4 separate regions of the Homo sapiens genome follow, and all the other regions are linked to region 1. Evidence: fine-mapped expression QTL. A gene starts in region 1. Each other region holds a variant in brackets. All regions are shown on one strand. Distances are between the middles of the regions. Region 1 holds the start of VLDLR (very low density lipoprotein receptor). Region 2 overlaps VLDLR-AS1 (VLDLR antisense RNA 1). Region 3 holds the start of LOC105375955 (a long non-coding RNA gene). Region 4 overlaps VLDLR (very low density lipoprotein receptor).

Region 1 (5,150 bases):
AGACAGATGCCGGTTGGGATTGGTTTAGGGTCAATAACTGCCTCAGCCCAAATTTCCTCCAGTTCTGGAAGAATCTGCTTCCTCTCCTTTGAAGAATTTGTTTTTCCATTGTTCATGGCATGTCAAATATTTCACATGTGACAAAGTGAAAAGGATCCTCACCTGCCCAATACAAGGTGAACATCTGGCTTTGACTAACTCATGTCAGTAGTTTAGGTGCATTCCTAGCATTCTATAAGGTAAAGTTAACCTCTAGTGGAAGGGACATGCAGCAAAAACGAAACTTTTCTCTCACCTTCCTGGATAATTGTCCCTCCTTCTGGTATACCTTAGCGTTTTGAAATGTTACAAAAGGCATAATGCAAGTCATGGCACTATACTGAGAAATCGTTTAATAAGTTAGTATTACTCATCTATTAATGATTAATGCTAGCGTTTGGAAACTCTTGTAAGCAGAGCTTTTCTAGGCTCTCAGGCTTGTTACACATCAGATTCCATGTTCACTACACATTCGTCCTCTTCAAAGAGTCCAGGCAGGGGAAGGCATTTGAGAGAACAGCCCGTAAGAGCCTGTGGAGTCTCCTACTTTCCATTGAAAATAACACTGCCCATGCTGCCCACTTAAGAGTCCGCGGAACCATGTGACCAACCTAAACGTGATCGCACCGCTAACCAATCGCAGAGGGCGGAAAGGCCAGTCCCAGTTCACACGCTCCGGACAGTGGCAACCAAAGGGCAGGGGCATTCGGAGACGTAAAAACCCCAGGCGCTGCCCGACAGGCTCCTTGACCACATGCTTTAAAGTTCGCTCTCACTTCAGGAGCACGTGACTGCAGGCCGGCAGGGCCCCTGAAGCCACCCGGCGACGGGAGCCAGGGACTCTGGAACGGGTGTTAAGGGCCTGGGCGGCTTTCAGTCCCAATTCCCTGCAGCTGGCAAGCAAGCCCCTCGGCGTCACATCTGAAGATCACTTCGGGGACGCGCTAGGATTCCGACTGAGTCCTCTCAGAAAGGCTTCCTGTCGCCTGTCCAGGAAAGTTACGAGGCCCCAAGTGGGAACGTGGCTGACGACCAGGCGGGGCCCCCAGGCCCCCGCGGCAGAGTCTGGGGACCCGACAGTAGTCACCGCCGCCCTTCCCAACAAGACAGGGCCACACGCTCGCTCTCGCGCTGCTCCTTTGAGCTATTGTGTAGAATGAAGGCTAATTACAGTCACTAGCCTAGGACTCAATTCCTCTCGAGGAAACGTCACCGGGAAGGAGGGTCAGCAAACTAACCTGATTAAGTCTCCCCTCCACTCCCCCTCCGCGTTCAGCTACACGGGAGACCCGAGCGGTTTCCAAACGCCGCCCGAGGCGGGGAAAAGGGAGAGGAGAAGCGCCCAGAGCAGAGTCCTGCGTAAAGCCCCGCCGCTCCCCTACCCCGCACGCCGGAGAGGCGGCCCCGCGCCGGGGGAGTCGCAGTCCGGGTGCCCTCGGCTCCGCGGAGCCTCCCGGCCGCCGCCCACCGAACGTGCGCCAGCTCGCGGCCGCCGGAAGACTCTGAAGCCCGGCCGGCCCCTGGCGCTCCGCGTCCCCGGAGGCGCTCACCTTCTCCCCCCGTCCGCTCCCGCACTCCCCGGGGTTCGAGGGTGCGCCCGAGGCTGCCGCACACGTCTTGGCCCTCTGCCTCCTTCCCAACACTGCGCCTGGCAGAGGAGGCAGAACCATTGTTCAATGCTCAGAAGCCCACGCACCTCGGCGCCCGTCAAGAGGGCGAGAAACGAGGCGAAGCAGCGGCTCTGGGGGAGGCGGAGTGAGGGGCAGAAGACTAGTTCAGGCGAGGCGTCGGGGCACCCCGAACCCCGCTGTTCCCCAAGCCCGGCTCCCTTTAGCCTCGGCGCTGACAGCTCAGAGGCGCCACCACGGAGGGGAGGGAGGGAAGGCGAGGAGAACCGAGAGGCGCCTCCTAGGAGGCGGGTGGGCAAACGGAGACCTACGCCTCGGGGTCTCCCGGTGCCCCGGCTGGGTCCCGCCCGCCGGCGGAGGGGCGCGTCCTCACTCACCGGTTCCGGTGGCGCCGCTCTCCCGGGGCGCCCAGCACAGCGCGAGCAGCAGCCAGAGCGCCCAGAGCGCGGACGTGCCCATGGTGCCCGCCTGGATGGTGCCGCCGCCGCCGCCGCCGCCGCCGTTCGCTCCGCACGACAAGTTACCAGTCCTTCCGAAAGGAGGAAGAAGGTGGGGGCGGGGAGGGGAAAGGGGGAGAAGGAGGGGAAGGAGTTGGCGGGGGAAGGGAGCGGGGAAGAAGAGGGCACCCCCTCCCCTACAACTTGCACAGTCTCCTCCCCACCCACCCAGCCACCTCCCCGGGCTGCAGCAGCAGTGCAAGCCGAGCCTGCGGGCAGAAAATAATGCAGGCGCTGCAGAGGAGGGGAGGCAAGGGGAGAGGAGGGAAGGGAGAGGGGGTGGGGAGCCGAGAGCAGAAGAGAGCACAGAACGGAGAGGAGCCGGTAGCGGAGCACCCGCACCGGCGGCGGCCGGAGAGCGGGGTGAGCAGCGGGGAGGGGGCCGGAGGGGGCGTGGTCAACGGGAGGCGCGGCGGGCGGGCGGGAGCGCGGCGGCTTCGGCCCTCCTTTCCCTCGACGCGCTCCTCTTGCACGCGCCGGGCAGCCGGGTGCCCGCGCGGGGAGCGTGCGAGTGTGAGCGTGCGTGAGTGACCGCGGTCGTGGTCGTGGCTGCCGCCGCCGCCACCCGGACCGCTCTAGGGGCCCGGCTGCTCCGCGCGTTCGCCTGGGGCTCACGGGGGCCCGGGGCGACCGCTGGTTGGCTCGCGCGCCGCCCTCGCCTCCAATCCCGGGTGCCTGTCCTAATTTCCTGATCCAGGGAACCTGCCGCCGCAGCGGCTGTGCGCTCCCTACAGTCATTACTGTACCCTCCCGGCAGCCTCCGGCAGAACACGCAGCAGCAGCAGCAGTTAGCGCTGATGCAACTATCGTTGCTGTTGCCACCGCCTCCCCACTGACGGGGCGTGCACCTGGGGGGTACTTGCAGTTTCCAGGGGCAACAAGCATCTCTCTACCACCCTCTCCTGCGCCCCTGAGAGAGGCTGGTAGGTAGCATCTTCTTCGGGCCTCCTCTATCCACTCAGAAAGTGATGAAGCGGAGGGGCTCCAAACGTTTGGGCTGCTCAAAAGTGGGGTTTGGGATGCCGGTCTCAATCGCACGCTGAGATGCCGTTTTGCCGAAAACTAAATGTGTCTTTAAGTGAGAGAGTGTGTATGTTTGAAAGAGAGTGCGCGCGGTTGTGGCTGGTCCTCTGTAATAGAACAAGACTGAAATAACCCAGCCTGGGATGAGGAGAAGGGAAATTGCTAGCGCAGCTTTGCATTTGCTCATCAACGATTATAGTTAATTGCTAATTGCACAAAATGATAGTTTGAGGGCCTGTAATTAAAAGCTTAACCTTTTCTTGTTTGGAAGAGAGGGGCCCCATACGTTTATTCCTCTTGATATACTTTGTAACATTCAATTACAAGAATCGAGGAAAGAATAAAGGAAGCAAAGACAAGACTCCTAGAAAGGGTTGGTTCTTCTTTTGTGCCTGACAGTACCTGAGTCTATAATTTGCTTTTTGTGTACTTCAGTTTTCTTGCACACTTAGCCCTGGTTGAGGTGCATTGTCTGCTGTGGTCTGTTGAGCATCTAACCAGAGTGGGAGGGCACATCGAGCGATTTCACTTTCTTAAATAAAAGGTTTTTGGTATTTTGAAAAAGTTGTTTTTATCTTAATTCAAACTTGGAAGGTTTCAATAATATCATATTCTGACTCTATTCTGTTGGTGATCTGAAGAGCAGCGGGCACTGCCTCACTGTCTTCTCCTTGCCCTGGTTCTCCTGGAAATTTGTCAAGGCTAGCAATCAGAGGAGATGTTTATTAGGAACTTACTATATCCAGGAGACACACAGGAGAGGAAAATTCCAGTCAGGATAGGTTTCTGTGGGCCAAAGATATCCTGATTGTGACTGCTAAGCATGAAAGGGCTTAACTCTACGTATGGATGGTATCTTGCACTATAGCTCATTTTGAATGCTATTTTGCCCACCCTGTGGTTACATAGTTGATACAAACTGCAGCAGCCACACAGGTTGCATGTGAAACAACTGAAATTTGTTTGTATGACATTTAGTAGTGAAGATGCATGCCGGTGTTATTCACCTAATGGCATTGAGATGTGATAGGAAAACCTTAGTGCATGATGTCTTTCATATTCTCAGGGTTCTGAAATGCCATCTGATGAGCTACTGCTTTACAGAAGAGGAAAGGAGTAGAAGGGATGGGTGGAATCAATACAAAAAGAGGCAGCATTAATAAACAGTCATATGACTTGTTTTTAATACTTTACTCAGAGATACAGGTATACTACAAGCTATACATTGATATGGTATAATAAGACTTAACTTTGAAAAACGTGTGTGAGTACTTTCTAATTCTCCAAGGGATATAAATAAACTTTCAGTGAACTTAGCTGCAGCTCTGTATTCAATCCTGTAGCTTTTTTGTTGACTCAAAAGAAAGCATAACTTTTGGCTCCATCTCTGATTGACTGTGTAACTTGGGAAAAATCACTGTGCCTCTCTGTGTCTGCCTTTTGGCCTGTAAACTGAAAAGAAAGCCAAGCCACATTATATCAAAGTGCTCCGTGGCCTCAAGGACCAGCTCTCTGCAAGGTGTTGTTTATTAGAAGAAAAAGGTTGTATGGAGAAATTCATTGGATTATGATAGAAAGTAGCTAATAACTAAAAAGATAAATTGATGATAAGTGGATATTGAAGTGGTTGAACTAACAGAGCTAATTGATCATAAGTGGAGACTGAAATGGTTGAACTAACTGGGTTCAGAGAAGTTGACACTGCTGGATTCCCGACGCCGTCAGGTAAATGCAGAGGCAATCCCATTCACTCCTACAATCCACCACATTCATTTATTTGTTGAAGCAACACATAGTGAGCATCCCTGGCTAACGGGCACTGTGCAAAGTAGTGGGCATACAGAAGTGCTTATCTAGGAAGCTCAGCATCTGGTAGGGGAGGCAGGCAAGTGGGCAACTGTAGTACCCTATGTATAGCACTCTGATTAAGAGATGCTTAAAGTGCTAGAAGATTGCAAGGAAG
Region 2 (5,150 bases), 78 kb after region 1:
ACAAACCACAAGGTCAGTCCTTGTGGTTAAAACCAGAGCATATAAACACAGGAGCTATTATGGGGCAATCTTGTGGATTTAAGTGCGGAGAAAACCAGCCTTCCAAGATGAGACTGAAGCCACCATACAGAGAAGAACAGATAATATGGAGAGAGAATCTGAGGGATTCCCTCCTACTCCTATGTTTTGCTTGCATTTCTGCATTTGATTGCATGAGACACTCTCATATTCTTGTAATAAATTCTCTTTAGTGTCAAAGTTAGTTCAAGTTGATTTCAATGACTTGTAGCAAAAAATCTTTCACCACTATATCACACTTTCTGATTTCCCATTTCAATGAAGGATATTATACTAGACAGAAATAATATATACGGGGGAGAGATCAAACTTACTTAAAATATTAGAAACAAATTGTTTGGGAATCTTATTTGGGGAATTTGGTGGAATAATGCTGAGGGACTCTCTGCATTGTTAGGTTTGAAGCAATAGAGAATTTTCCCTTCAAGATGGAGTAGGAGCATGAAGAAAAAAATATTTCATGCTTAAAAACCATAGGCAACAGCCAACGACGGAGCAAAGCACCAAATAGTTAAACTAGGATCCATCAGAAACCTAAGCATCATTTGACCATGCTTCTTGAGCTTCAGCCCTCTTATCCAACCCACCACCAGATCCTGTGAGTTTCCCCATCTACCATTATCTTGAGTCTGTTTCCATCCACTCTAGTCTAAGTGACCTTTATTTCTCATGAGAACTCCAGCAATGGCCTTCAAGACGTAGATGGTGGACAGCTGCTCTTGCCACCAATGGTTCTCTATGCTGTGACTATAGAGCTGATCTAAAGTTCCTAACTGATCCTGTCAAAAGTTTTTCAGGTAATTTTAGTGGCTTCCTTCACTCTTCCTCATAAAGCCCCATAAAGTTCAGCCTGTGCAACCTCATCATGCACCCCACTCCACTGCTTATATATGTTCCTGATTATCAGCTTCTTTTTTTCTTGTTAGACAGGGTCTCTCTGTTGCTCAGGCTGGAGTGCAGTGGTGTGATCATGGCTCACTGCAGCCTCGACTCCCCAGAATCAAGCAATTTTCCCTCCTCAGCTTCCTCAGTAGCTGGCATGTGCCACAGGCATGTGCCACCATGCTTGGGTAATTTTTTTTTTCTTTTTTGGTAAAGATGGAGTCTCACTGTGTTGCCCAGGCTAGCCTTGAACTCTTGGGCTAAAGCAATCCGCTCACCTCAGCCTCCCGAAATGCTGAGATGATGTGTGTGAGCCACCGCACCCAGCCAACATCAACTTCTCCTCAGGCCCTTGCCTTGCCAAGCTGCCTTTGCTATGGGGCTTTTGCGCATGTTATTCCTCCTGGAACATTCTTTTCTGCCACCTTTACTCAGCTTTCCTTGGCCTCTCTGACTAGACTGATTATTCTTAGTATAGCACTGTGTACCCATCCTTTTAATCATTTGTTTTTGTAGCAGCTTTTCTCCCCACTCCCGCAGTATTTGGTTGTCTGTCTATTCTACTAGACTGTAAGCTCCACAAGGGCAGGAGCTCTCTGCTTTAGCCTATTGTTTTAGTCATAGCACCTAATAGAATGTGTAGCAGGGGATTATCAAATATTTGTTGAATAAATAAATATGCAGAAAGGTAAAAAATGTGAAAAGCAAGCAAACACACAAGGAGGAGCCTTCAACTTATATACTCTTTATCAGAGATTAGGTGTATAATTCAGTTGGTTCTAACTCATAGTTTTTCTTAGGTGCTAGGCTTGTCATCAACAGTCCTATTAATAATGCTAAAATTCCTTTAACAAATAAGGGTTTAAGGTTATCAGTAAATAAAATATAATTAGTGTTAGTAGTACTTCTAGGTCAGTCCATAAAGGCCTGTTGAATGGATGAGGTGTCCCTAAAATAGTAGTTTTAAACCCTAACATTTACTAAGTCCCTATGACCTTTGAGAAGGACTTGGAGGCTATGAAGGGAAAGAGAATTCCAATTACTAGCAATTTCCAGAGCTTCAGAGATGAAAGATGTCATCAAGACATGTTCTGAGGTCTGCAATTCTAGTAGTGAGTGTGGGATGGGCCAGAGTGATGGGAATGGAGGAGAGCCCAGGGACCATTCAAAGGAAGAAGCTGCTCATGAGCCCTGTGATATGCTGGCTA[G/T]GATAGGTCCCTTTTCCTTTTCTTCTATATATGTCCCTTTGAAGGTATGTGCACTTAAGTAGAAAATACTGTCCAAAGTAATTTACAGAATCAATGCTATTCCCATTAAACCATCATTGACATTCTTCACAGAATTAGAAAAAAACTATTTTAAAATTTATACAGAACCAAAAAAGAGCCTGTATAGCCAAGACAATCTTAAGCAAACAGAACAAAGCTGGCATTACGCTACCCAACTCCAAACTATGCTACAGGTTACAGCAACCAAAACAGCATGGTACTGGTACAAAAACAGACACATACACCAATGGAACAAGATAGAGATCTCAGAAGTAAGACTGCACATCTACGAGTATCTGATTTTTGACAAACCTGACAAAAACAAGCAATGGAGAAACGATTCCCTATTTAACAAATGGTGCTGGGAGAACTGGCTAGCCATCTGCAGAAAATTGAAACTGGACCCCTTCCTTACACCTTATACAAAAATTAATTCAAGATGGATTAAAGACTTAAATGTAGAACTCAAAACTACAAAAATCCTAGAAGAAAACCAAGGCAATACCACTCAGGACATAGGCACTGGCAAAGATTTTATGACAAAAACGCCAAAAGCAATTGCACCAAAAGCAAGTATTTGACAAATGGGATCTAATTAAACTAAACAGCTTCTGCACAGCAAAAGAAACGAGCATCAGAGTGAACAGACATCCTACAGAATGGGAGAAAATTTTTGCAGTCTATCCATCTGACAAAGAGCTAATATCCAGGGTCTACAAGAAACTTAAACAAATTTACCAGAAAAAAAACAACCCCACTAAAAAGTGGGCAAAGAGCATGAACAGACACTTCTCAAAAGAAGACATTTCTGCCACCAACAAACATATGAAAAAAGCTCAACAACACTGATCATTAGAGAAATGCAAATCAAAACCACAATGGGATGCCATCTCATGCCAGTCAGAATGACGATTATTAAGTCAAGAAACAACAGATGCTGGCGAGGTTGCAGGGAAATAGGATTGCTTTTACACTATTGATGGGAATGTAAATTTAGAAGACAGTGTGGCAATTCCTCAAAGATCTAGAACCAGAAATATCATTGACCCAGCAATCCCATTACTGGGTATATGCGCAAAGGAACATAAATCATTCTGTTATGAAGATACATGCACACTATGTTCACTGCAGCACTATTCACAGTAGCAAAGACATGGAATCAACCCAATTGCCCATCAATGATCCCATTTAATTAGATCCCATTAACCAACCCAAATGCCCATCAATGATAGACTGGATAAAGAAAACATGGTACATATGCACCATGGAATACTATGCAGCCATAAAAAGGAATGAGATCATGTCCTTTGCAGGGACATGGATGGAACTGGGAACCATCATCCTCAGCAAACTAACTCAGGAACAGAAAACCAAATACCACATTTTCTTACTTATAAGTGAGAGCTGAATGATGAGAACACATGGAGACAGGGAGGGGAACAACACACACCAGGGCCTATTGTGTATGGCAGCAGGAGGGAGAACATCAGGAAAAATAGCTACTGCATGCTGGGTTTAATGCCTAGGTGATAGGTTGATGGATGCAGCAAACCACATGGCACATGTTTACCTATGTAACAAACCTGCACACCCTGCACATGTATCCTGGAACTTAAAAAAACAACCCCCCAGAAAAATTTTAAAAAAAGAAAACACAAGTTACCCTGCTGGAGGAAGATTTTTCTTTTATCTAGACTATAAAGGTAGCCATATTTTTGCAAGAATTTCTGTATTAACATTCCATGTCAAGAGGAAGAAAAGAAAAGGAGATTCCAAGGGTAGAAGGATTAGTGCAGAAGCCCTCTGAGAGCATGGGAGGAAAGGCAGTTTGAGGAGGTGATGACACATGGATTGCTGGAGAGAAGGGTGGATGCCCTCAGGGAATGAGAAGGAAGGAAGGAGGAAGAGAGAAAACACAGGTTATTTGCCTGGGAATGAAGGACACAGACAATTCTGCTTTCAATGACCAGATTTTCTGACAAATATTCCCAGAACATAGCTCAGTAGAAATGCCAATTGCGTCAGGCAAACCTTTCTAGAGAATATCAGTTTTATTTTAGAAAGAATAGCCTGGCTGCAAAGAGAAATCTAAGATCGAGAAAACATCAAATTATGCCATGAGTTATTTTCATGAAATGAGATACTGCACAGCACTCTGAAAAAAACTTTATTGTTAAAATTCCGAGAAAGAGGAGCACTTGACATAAAAAGCACAGATCCTAAAGTCATGCTCATGACTTTAAATTTGTGTAAGCAACTTAATAACACTTGAAAATCTAACCTGTGGCAAGGCAAGGTGGCTCATGCCTGTAATCCCAGCACTTTGGGAAGCCGAGGCGGGCGGGTCACCTGAGGTCAGGAGTTCCACACCAGCCTGGCCAATGTGGGGAAACCCTGCCTCTACTAAAAAAAAATACAAAAATCAGCCAGGCCTGGTGGCAGGTGCCTGTAGTCCCAGCTACTCAGGAGGCTGAGGCAGGAGAATTGCTTGAACCCGGGAGGCAGAGGTTGCAGTGAGCTGAGATCGCATCATTGCACTCCAGCCTGGGTGACAAGAGCAAAATTCTATCTCATAAAAAGAAAAAAAAAAAGAAAGAAAAAAAGAAAATGTAACCTATTTATTTTATTTTAAAGTGAAACTGAGGATGAGGTAATTTGTGTTCCCATAACTGGATTCTTTCAGAGCATGCAGCATTCAGGGCTAAGGCGAGAAAAATCTCAAAAAGCAACTTTTATCTCTGTTTCATGGTTCCTGCCCCTGACGCCCCTGGAGTACATATTCTGGTCTTTGGAGCACTAGATTAATATTTCTTCATGTGAATATTCTTATATTTTTCTTTTGGGCATACTCTATAAACTTAATTGAACAATGTTATTTCTATAGAAGTTTTTGTAAAATTACTTTTGCCATTCTTAATTTTA
Region 3 (5,150 bases), 330 kb after region 1:
TCAGGGAACCACTCATGCACAAACTAGAGTTCACAAGGATCTTCGTAGCTGTGTTGTCTCTAGTGGGAAAAAAAAAACTCTAATGAGTCTATCTATGAATAAGGAATGGGTTAATAAATGCTACTATATCCATAGCCATTCCGTATGCAACAGTTAGGAAGAATGAGGTTAATCTGTATATATTAATAGGAAAAGAAATATTAGTGAAATAAGAAAACAATTTACTGAACACTATATATAACATGATTTTTAAATTTTTTAAATATGAAAACCATTTTTTCTGTATTTCTGTATAAGAGCCTAAATGCACAAAAGAAGGTAACAACAGTTACCTCTAGAAAGGGGTATGGTCTAGAAAGCGTATGGTCAAAGTAGACTTTAGCTTTACTTTTATGCTTAGATTTTAAATTTTACAACTAAAATGTGTTCATGTATTATTTGTATAATTAACATTTTTAAAAAATAAAAGGGAAGCATAGCTAATGGATGTTCAGGCTGAGCCATAAATTTGTGCAGCAGCTATGTGAGCTTGTTCTCTGCTGAGGAGGGAGATGACGTGTCTGAACTGTGAGCATCCAAGCACAGCAGTGCAGAGCTGCTTAGAGTGGCTGCTCCTCCGGCTCTGAAAAATTATGAGCCAAGACAGAGGAAAGCAGGGTTCCCCAGATGCCACTGCAGTGACAATCATCTCCAAGGCTGTCTGGCAGGAAGGTACAGGCTGATGGGATGGCAGAGGCCCCTGCTTCCCTCTGCTGATGCCCAGAGAGGCGAGGGTCAGGGAGTGAGGGACAAGGGAAGAGTAGAGGGAGAGAGTATTGGAGTCATCCAAGACAGACATTGGTACCTGGTAATACCCGGTAACTGTGCCAAGAGCCAGGCCTTTCCATAGCTGAGAGTTCAGGGGATGTGATTTCTCCCCCCGTCCTTCATCCCCTCTACTCTAAACAGGGTGATTTCTCTGTGTTGGCACCAAGTGCAAACCCTCCTCACACCACAGTCATAGAGCCAGATGATAGCTCAAAAAGCTGTCTTGGTCACTCCTTGCTAGGAAGTTAGGAATTAAAGAGTCCCTGGAAAAAAGTAATCACAATACATATAGAATGTTCTTTTATCTTCCCTGGAAACCAAAATATTTGTTGTCCCTTTGTGAGTTCAATTTCTTATTTTTTAAAATTTTCACAGAATGGGATTACACCACCTTGCTTGGTCTCCATCCAACTGTCCATGTATTCGTTAATCCACCCAATCACATTTATTTAGCACCAACTACATATATATCAGTACTACAGGATACCTGATCTTGAAGGTGGAAAGTTTCAAAGAAGGCTTTGAGGAGGTAACATGAAGAATGGGTACAGTAAGTAAGCCATATCCGGGCAAACTTTTGGGAGTGTGACTGTAGGGTGAGAGTAGGATGAGGGAAGGGACCAAGCAAGAGTACTCCAGGCTAAAGGGAAAACATGGGTTGCAGCACATTTTAGCAACTCCAACTCCCCTATACCCACAGAAGAAAAAAGCAAGTGTGGAGCAACTCTAAACTTAGTGATGAGGAAGTAAGTTAGAGTCCCTGTGAAATGGGAGAGTTCCCGGTTCCCCCTCTCAGTACTTGTGACAGGGGTGTGGAGTGACTGACAGGTCACCGTCCTGCTGCTTCTCAAACCCCTTGCGGGAAAGGGAGCACGCAGAAGGGCAGATGCAGAGCTGGGGCGAGCACTTTGGGCTCCAGCCCCATGGTAGGGTCTCGAGGTGGGCGCCTGCAATCCCAGTGCTACAATGCTGTCTTAGCCTTGCTGTCCACAGATGGCTTTAAGTGTTAACCAGCTCTATGGACCCTCTGCCTTTTTGCAAGGTCAGAGGGCCAGTGTGAAATCTTTCTGTATCCCGAGTTCTTATCCAGCATCCCGGGAGTATCGGGTCACACACGGGCTTGAAGGATCAACGCAGGGTTTCGTCGAGTGGTGGAGGTGGCTCTTGGCGGGATGGATGGGAAAGCGGAAGTGGGGGATGGAGTGGGAAGATGATCTTCCCCTGGAGTTGGGCTGTCCAGCTGCCAAACTCCTTTCCAACCACCCCCAGCTGAACGTTCCTCTTCCTGTCTCCCTGCTGTGTCCTTCTGCCGTCCCTCTGCTTCTCTTCATCTGCTGGTCTGCTCCTGGAGCCTGGGGTTTGAGGTTTATATGGGTGCAGGATAGGGAACGTAGCAGGCCGAAAGGCAACTTCTTGAGTGCAAAAACAGGAATGCCTGTCCTCATTTAGGGCCAAGGTTCTTCAGGCTTGAGGGTGGGGTTCTTGCCAGGAAACCACCCTCTTCTACTCAGTATCTCCCTGTCTCCTGTCTATATCACCTGTGGGATGCTAGATGCGTTTTTACAAAGCACAGGAACATCATTCAGAAGGATTTTCATGTGTGTTAATGAAATATCAAAAAGGCTGTGGAGACAGAAAT[G/A]CAAAGTCATTGAGGACTGGAAACCGAATTTCTGACAAAGAGAAGCTTGGTTAAGAGGGTGATGGCATTTTTTACCTCCAAACTGTGGACAGCTGTACAGTCTGAAATGCTCAGGAGAGACTCCATCAAGCTGAAAGCAGGAATCAAGTTTCCCAAAGCCAGGCTGTTTGAGCCCTTTACCTCCTTGGCCAGCCTTTTTTAATTTTTTAATTAAAAAATCAGTTCCAGTGGTTCTCCCATGCTCAAGAAAAGCAACCGTACACTCTAACTTACTTTCAAATACCTTGCCACTTTTACTCCAGATAGAGCCACATAAAAGCCAAGAGATAAATCAAATTGCTTGTCAGAATATCAGGTAGGCTAGGGACTGCTGGGATAAAAAAAAACCTGCTGTGGACTTCAATGGCTCTAGAATTGGCAAAAACATGTGAAATCATTCCTGAAGAGCTCAGGTGAGTGCCCTGCAGGTAGCCAGGCGGGCACTCTACCCTCCTTTAGGCTCTGAATCCAGCCCAGATTCATGATAACGTTTGCAAATGGTGTATTCATAAAACACTTTTTGGTGATACTCTAAAAGGGAGCTGGAGGGTCATTTTGTTAATGATTAACTGACAACACAACCAAAGCTCATTGAGCAGCTACTGTGTGTCCTTGGAGTTAGAACTCAAGGATGGAATGGGGGAGGGGGATGGCTGCAAAATGGTGTAAAAAGAATTCAAGACTGGCAGGTATCATGCTGGACCCCTGTTGACTTCATTCAATAGGAATGGCATCGTGTTTGAGAGGCTAAAGACCTGGCACCAGTGAACAAGACATAGGGTTTATTGAGGGAACTTACATACAGGGCAGTCCCGTCCAGTGGTGGTGGACTAGACAGGAGAACTGTAACAACTTGTATAAAGCATGCAGTTTATATAGTGTTTTCACTTAACACCCTCCTCCTAGGAACCTCTACCCATTAACCTTCACTTAACCCAAAACAAAGAGCCTTGATCCTCTGTACAGCCTGTGCTCCACAGGATGGGCCAAGGGATAAGGAATGAATCTCCATGTTGGCTACTTCTGGATTCCTTAGCTTACAGCTACAAACACACATTCTTCTTAGACCATAGGGTCATTCTCAGAGTGTGCCTAAGTTATGTTATTGCTGTCAGGTGTGTCTGTCATACAGAAGGCTCTTGATTGGATGTAGTACACAGTGCACATTAGGGAGGGGCCTTAGAGTCCCACTTTCCTGTTCATTCACTGTGTGGCTTTGATCTGTGCACTTCAGTTTCCTCTTCTATAAAATGGGATCAATACTATCTTCTAGGCCAGGTGAGGTGGTTCACGCCTGTAATCCTAGCACTTTGGGGGGCCAAGGCGGGTATATTGCCTGAGCTCAGGAGTTCGAGACCACCCTGGGCAACATGGTGAAACCCTGTCTCTACTAAAAATACAAAAAAAGATAGCTAGGCGTGGTGGCGCATGCCTGTAATCCCAGCTACTCCCAGGCTTGAACCTGGGAGGCGGATGTTGCAGTGAGCTGTGATCGCACCACTGCACTTCAGCCTGGATGACAGAGTGAGACTCCATCTCAAAAAAAAAACAAAAAAAAAAAACAAAAAACAAAAAAAAAAACCCTCTTCTACTTCAGGTGGTTACAATTAAAAGAGATAAGCATAAAGCATTTAGTTCAAAGAAAATTAGGCATTACTACAAGGGCAAAAAGTAGACTGCTAGGCAGCTTTTTATGAGTGAGCCAGGGAAACAGTAGGAGCCTAGAGGTTCTGGACATTTTTAAAATAAGGGCAGTGCAAATTCTAGCTATATATATCTCCTGAGGGCAATGCCTCACAAACGAACGCATTGGGTTTCCTTTCATTCTATATTGGTTCAGTTCTACATAGTTACAATTTGAATTTTTCAAATATTCAAGTTATGGAAATCACCCTTTGCAAAAACAACATTAAAATAATTAGAATCTGAAAAACAGATGCATTCTATTTGGAATGTAAATTAAGCCTTTAAGAGGAATTAGCTGTGGTCTATACTTAACACCTGCCAGCTCGTCACAGCTATTTCTCCCTCTTGGACCTGGTTAACGTGACAGAGGCATAAAACCTGTTGAAACATGAAACTATCCCAAATGGAAAATGCAGATGATTCACTACAGGTAAACTAACTTAGTCAATATTCATTACAAGTTGATGCAAATTATCACAGTAACAGTTCCTTCAAAAGACTGGTTGGTGAGGTTGTGATATACTAATTAAAATTATCTGGTTATCTGAAGCTCATTATTCACCTTCTTCAATTCTGCCTAAAATTAACCTCTTCCATTTCAGTAAATTCATCAGAAAATTTATTTGAATGAATTAGTTTATTAATTCACCACTTACTACTGAATTTCCATTGTGTGTCAGGCCCTGTAACACCTATTTTAGGGGTGTTACATATCATTGACCAAACATATCAGGCCCTGACTTCATGGATTTTCCTTTATAGAAGGACAGACAAAAAACTGAAAAGAAATATATATTAATATTGTCAGGTAGTGATTAAGTGTTGTAAAGATCAAGAAACTATAGGATGGAGTTACTTTAGAAAGGCTGGTCAAAATAGCCTCTCAGCAGAGGTGACATCTGAACAGACATAGGATGGAAAGGGGCAGCATGCCATATGGTTATCTAGAGATAAGCATGGTCCAGGGCAGGGAACAGTA
Region 4 (5,150 bases), 36 kb before region 1:
TTTTAGCCTTATAAACGAATTTCAACACAGACCATCTAAGAACTAACGAGGAGACAGCATCAAAATGATTTTACTTGTAATGTCCTTTCCTGTCCTGCCGCCCTGGGATATGCCCCCCTTTAGCCAGGTGTGGCCTGTTCTCAGTCACCTACAAGAAGGAAGTGCTAGGCTAACATTCCTAACTAAGTAACAGTAGCTTTGACTTCTGTCTTTTTCATGGGAAGGGTAGAGAGGGGAAATTTGAGAGGATAATATACTGGCTGTCCATGGTGAGGCACTAACTGTACTAAATATGGCAAGAAAGGGACCATCTCTCAGTTTTTCAGCCTGAAGTGTCCAGACCTGGGTGGCCCTACTTGTTCCTAGAAAGGGGTGACTGAGTCATCTTCAGTGATTCAGTTGAGAAAAGGAAAAAGATTTGAGTAAAAGCTTTTATAAAAGGTCTCTAGAGAAAGGAAAGGCTCACAATTATCCCAAAAATAAACTTTTATTTAAATGTACAGTTCATTAGTAAAAAAAAGTTTATTGACAGGTCATCAGGACTCTGCATTCTAACATGTGCCTTTAGAATTCTGAAGATCCTGAGCATGATAATTTGGTTGTATATGCCGGACTCCTGAGGCATTACATGCTTTTAAATCGCATTCTAGTATCAAGTGACATTTAAAAAGAGCAAGATAGTTTTGTCAAAGCCAGTCATTTTGTTCAAAAAAACTCTCTTCCTCCTTGCATGTGTGTTAACTGAGAAATACCCAAGTCTGGTAGTTCTACCAATCTGGTATATTCCAGAATACTTAAGATCCAGTGCTGGAGTTATAGCATCATTGAGTTACAAGCCACAGTTCTTCCTGTCTTTTTGGCCATGTTTCTCCCTATAGGAGAGCCTTGAAACTTAAGATTTGTTGTGGTACAGTTTGTTTTCTCCCAATATCTTATACATAGGAATGAAGTTGCCTGCTTATAAATTCCTTTAGGGAATCTTTATCATTTTCTTTGCAATCCAACAATCTACTTCTACTTCACTTGGATGGCCAAGGAAAATAATTCTGGAATGTCTAGCGTCTTGAAGGTATAACACGTAACTGAGTTAATCTGTGCTGACCTGATGTAGTAGTGCTAGTAGTACACTTCCATTACACCACCATACTGGATGCCAGCCATAGCTGGCATCTGAGAAACTGTTGAAGGATCCTAACATCAGCAATGAGGAGGACTCAGCAAACATGCAATGCGACATCCAGCTCAATCTTTGTACAGTACTGCATCCCCTTCTAAGAGAAGACGGCAGTAAGCACATAGGATTTGGAACCATAGATTGTTTGTAGCCTCAGTTTTTACCTATGTAAAATGGAGATACCTATTAGGGTTGCTGTGAAGAGCAAGTAAAAGACTTGGGAGCACTTACTTAGTACAAAAGTAAGCATATGGTAAGAATTTAAAGGAGATTTTAAGTGCTTTGGCAGCCATCTAAAGACTATGCAGGCTCCCAAATATTTGTTTCCATGTCCTAGGAGGTAGTCAAAAGAACTGAGGCAGAAACATTCCATTTATGTTTCTAGGGTTTAAACCATGCAGTCTTTTAAGCCTTCTTAAGTATGCAAGATGCTATCACTCCTTAAATATCAGACTTAGATCTCTTCAGACAGGTGTAGTGGAGAACACTTCGGTCACCATCTAACACATTACATTCATCATAGATAAAGGTACCTGTGACTTTCACCGGTAAAGTCACTTACCGGTGCCTGTGTGTGACAGTAAATACAGCCCTAGCATTGATGTGATATTCAGTAGTGACATCTGCCCTGCACATATTAGATGCCAGACACTGTGCTGAGCTTTTTGTGTGCATCTCACTTAAATCTTACCTTGTCACAGTGAGACAGTCCCCATCGTCTCTACTTTACAGAGGGAGTTAGTAACTTGCCCAAGGTACCACACACAAGACACGGAAGTCTATGCTGTTAACTACATTGCCTGCTGCTTCTAAACAGAACCACCTTGTCACCCATCTGACTTTTTCCTTGAGCGCAGTGAAGAAAAAAGCCATTTTTGATATGCCATGAGGTAACCTGCGGAGCACAAACTCCCCACCCGCAGCTGGTCTCACTCCTGTCTCAGTGTTTTTGCATTGAGATTTTTACAGTGAGATTTACAGGAGAACACTGGGTCATGGTCCTACTTTGTTCTTTTTCTCATTAGCCAGGCTCAAAAACGTGAAACGGACTCAGGAGACATGATAGAGAGATGGAACACCACTGTTATCAGTTTGTTAGTAGCTTATTTATCTATGGATCCCTAAGTTTCATATCTAGAGCCTCACTGGTAAAATGCATTCAGCTTTCCTGTGTGAAGGTAGATGTGAAAGGGATATGCAAAGATGGCTGATAATCCTTCACATGCAACTGTTTCGGCTAAAAATCCTCCAGGCTGGATTAGAGAGAAATAAGTTCGAAAAACGCCATTGTTCCCTCTTCAGATTCATTCCCTCCATATTTGGAAATAAGTACCTTTGAAGATTTTTGTACTTTTATATATTTCTGAACTCTCATAGTTTAGGCCCATGATATGGCTGAAGCATGGATGTACAATTTTTAGTTTTCCCAAGAAAAATCATACTTGTTAGGATATTTACTCGAGTAGTTTTTTAGTATTACAATTCTAGAAGAGAAGTCATTATAAGCCCCTTCTGGCCTTAGAGACTATATAATACCAAAAATACCTAAAAACCTTTTCTTTAAGAGAGTGAAATCGCTTGATGTGCCCTCCCACTCCGGTTAGATGCTTAACAGACGACAGCAGACAATGCACCTCAACCAGGGCTAAGTGTGCACACTTGGCCAGCAGCCGCCAACAGAACGGGCAGCAGCAGCAGTTAGCACTGACGCAACTATCGCTGCTATTGCCACTACCATCTCCCCACTAACAGGGCTTGCAGAATATGTAATACCCAGGGGATTATATATATGTGGTTTTTAGGCACCGCCTCATCACCCACAATAAGGGAA[G/T]CTTCTTTCTACTCTTTAGCTAGTTGCTGCTCCTACTTGTTAGGAGTTTGATGTATCAGACCCTTTTGAGAAATGTCTATGTCACAACTACGTTCAGGATAAAACAATTATGAAACTGAAGGGCTCAGATTTGGGGATCAAGATTAGCAGGTTGTATTCATAGTACTTCAACTTAAATTAGCAAAAGTATATCTGCTTTTTGCAAGTTTTTGCCACCATTGAAAGCAAACAGTATAGCTTTCATTTGGATTCAAAATAATAAATTGTTTTACTTGGGTAAGATTTCACTAGTAAGAATTCTAGGAAATTATTCCAGTTAGATTACGTAATAGAGATAAGTGACCCCTAGAATCTTTAGGTTTGGGGTAAAGATTGTTAAAAGGTAGACTTTAAGTTGGTCTACCATTTCTACAGTGTTCTTAACTGAAGAGTTAGTCTTTTAATACCCTGTAGTTTGCTATTTAAAGCTTGGCTTCTCATTTTTGAGAAGGGCTACTTGACTTCCACAGATACAAGGAACAGAAGCAAATGCCAAAGTGAAAGCCTCAATTTTTTTTTTTTTTTTTTTTTTTTTTTTGCCTTGTATTCATCAAGAACTAAAGAGGCAGCGATACCTAGGCTTTAAAACACCTACTAGAATGTTTTAAGGGAGCTAGTTGAACAACTGGGACTATTTTTTTGCCAAATAGATTAGCTTGCAAAGGGCACTTAAAAATTTGGACAGAGGAACTTGGCTGGATTTCTTTACCAGAGGCCACAAATCTGTTTATTCATCTATCATCAATCTTTGTGGCAATTCCTAAAATTTCTGGAGGGTCCACTTTCACTTTGTGTGACAGGCTCATCTAACTCCAAATATTCTCCTTTAGTGTATGATAAGCTTCATATTTTACCTCTTAATTATCTTCTACATTGAACTCTAGAGACAGAGCAAACTTATCCTAACACATTTCACATAGAATTCAAGTTATTTTTTGGGTGATAAAGCCGAGGCCTGTTATCATTCATGCACTATTATTGCAAGCTGTATTGACTAGTAGTTTAGTCATATAACTATTTTTTTCTTTTATTTTTATAAATTTTTTTTTTGTAGAGACAGGGTCTCACCATGTTGCTCAGGCTGGTCTCGAACTCCTGGCCTCAAGTGATCCTCCTGCCTTGGCCTTCCAAAGTGCTGGGATTATAGGCGTGAGCCACCATGCCTGGCCCACCAATATATCTATTCTTATTTCAATAGGAATATCTAGTTACTTTGTTTCTACAAATGAGTTTGTACCTCGTAGGTACAATGAGTTGTACCTTGGCTTCTTACTGGGGAGGACGTGGTAAAAAAAAATGAGACGTTTTAGACTCTTTGAGGGTTGGAAATTTTACCCAGAACATGAAAGAACATACTAGGGACAGGAATTCAAAAGATGATGATAGAGAATAATACTTTATTTGCCAAAACAAACTTTGGGCCTTATAATTAATTAATACTGTATAATCCTTATAATGGGGAAAGCAATAGTATCAAACTTCAAGCTTCTAAAGGGAATTTGGTATTACTCCAGTTAAAAAAAAAAAAATCCATGTTTTTTGTACCACAGCAGGGTCAGAGCAGCAGCCAAACTCTGAAATGGCTTTCAGAGTTCATGATGAATGCTAACCTACTTACCAAACAGGCACTTCAGCTACTCACTGTCAGCAGGCCACATCCTGTTCAGTGTGATGACTAAATGTAGAGTGAGGAAAAGGTGGAGAGCAGACAGTTCTATATTCATGACTACAGCCTTTTCCTTCTACATGCTTGACCTCCAAACCTCCCATGAAAAAAAAGTCCAAGGCTATCTTTTCTTTTTCATTCAGTTGACCAAAATCACAAGGGGGCATCCCTTAAGACAACAGAACCAACTTCCCCTTCATCTAGTAGGATTAATGTCCTTGCTTAAGCCACAAACAAGATGTTAACTGCCTTATATTTCATATGCAAGTGAAATATGAGTCATCCACTGATTCACGTAGCAACGCAAAACATCTTCTCTTCATCCTCTTGGTACTGTGTTGGTCGGTCATTTAATTCCAGAGGAATTGCTGTACCTTCCACAGCCAACTCTCCACCTCACTTGTGACACACAGCATGCACCCGGTGCTTCAAGTCTTTTG

What was found. PIP is the estimated chance that this variant, and not a neighbour inherited with it, causes the effect.
Region 2: its variant is the best candidate, but not a certain one, in a credible set for the expression of VLDLR in thyroid (GTEx, PIP 0.56).
Region 3: its variant is the best candidate, but not a certain one, in a credible set for the expression of VLDLR in whole blood (INTERVAL, PIP 0.56).
Region 4: its variant is the best candidate, but not a certain one, in a credible set for the expression of VLDLR in whole blood (TOPMed, PIP 0.81).

The regions. Positions count from the first base shown.
Region 1 is chr9:2,619,166-2,624,315 of GRCh38, reverse strand. It overlaps VLDLR (very low density lipoprotein receptor), which reads right to left and starts at 2,529. Exons shown (of 19, transcript NM_003383.5): 1 at 2,045-2,529. The coding sequence starts at 2,126. VLDLR-AS1 (VLDLR antisense RNA 1) reads left to right here and starts at 1,943. Exons shown (of 4, transcript NR_015375.2): 1 at 1,943-2,216. RefSeq lists silencers at 1,395-1,484, 1,495-1,584, 1,855-2,124, 2,735-2,814 and an enhancer at 2,693-2,987.
Region 2 is chr9:2,540,907-2,546,056 of GRCh38, reverse strand. All of the region lies in intron 1 of VLDLR-AS1 (VLDLR antisense RNA 1), which reads left to right. Among named protein-coding and RNA genes, the nearest start is that of VLDLR, 78 kb to the left of the region's middle. The variant G/T (reference allele first, on the strand shown) is at 2,169.
Region 3 is chr9:2,284,988-2,290,137 of GRCh38, reverse strand. It overlaps LOC105375955 (a long non-coding RNA gene), which reads right to left and starts at 1,038. Exons shown (of 4, transcript XR_929426.3): 1 at 845-1,038; 2 at 1-59. The variant G/A (reference allele first, on the strand shown) is at 2,447.
Region 4 is chr9:2,655,375-2,660,524 of GRCh38, reverse strand. VLDLR (very low density lipoprotein receptor) reads right to left here. Exons shown (of 19, transcript NM_003383.5): 19 at 469-5,150. All of the region lies in intron 2 of LOC105375957 (a long non-coding RNA gene), which reads left to right. Among named protein-coding and RNA genes, the nearest start is that of VLDLR-AS1, 36 kb to the right of the region's middle. The variant G/T (reference allele first, on the strand shown) is at 3,006.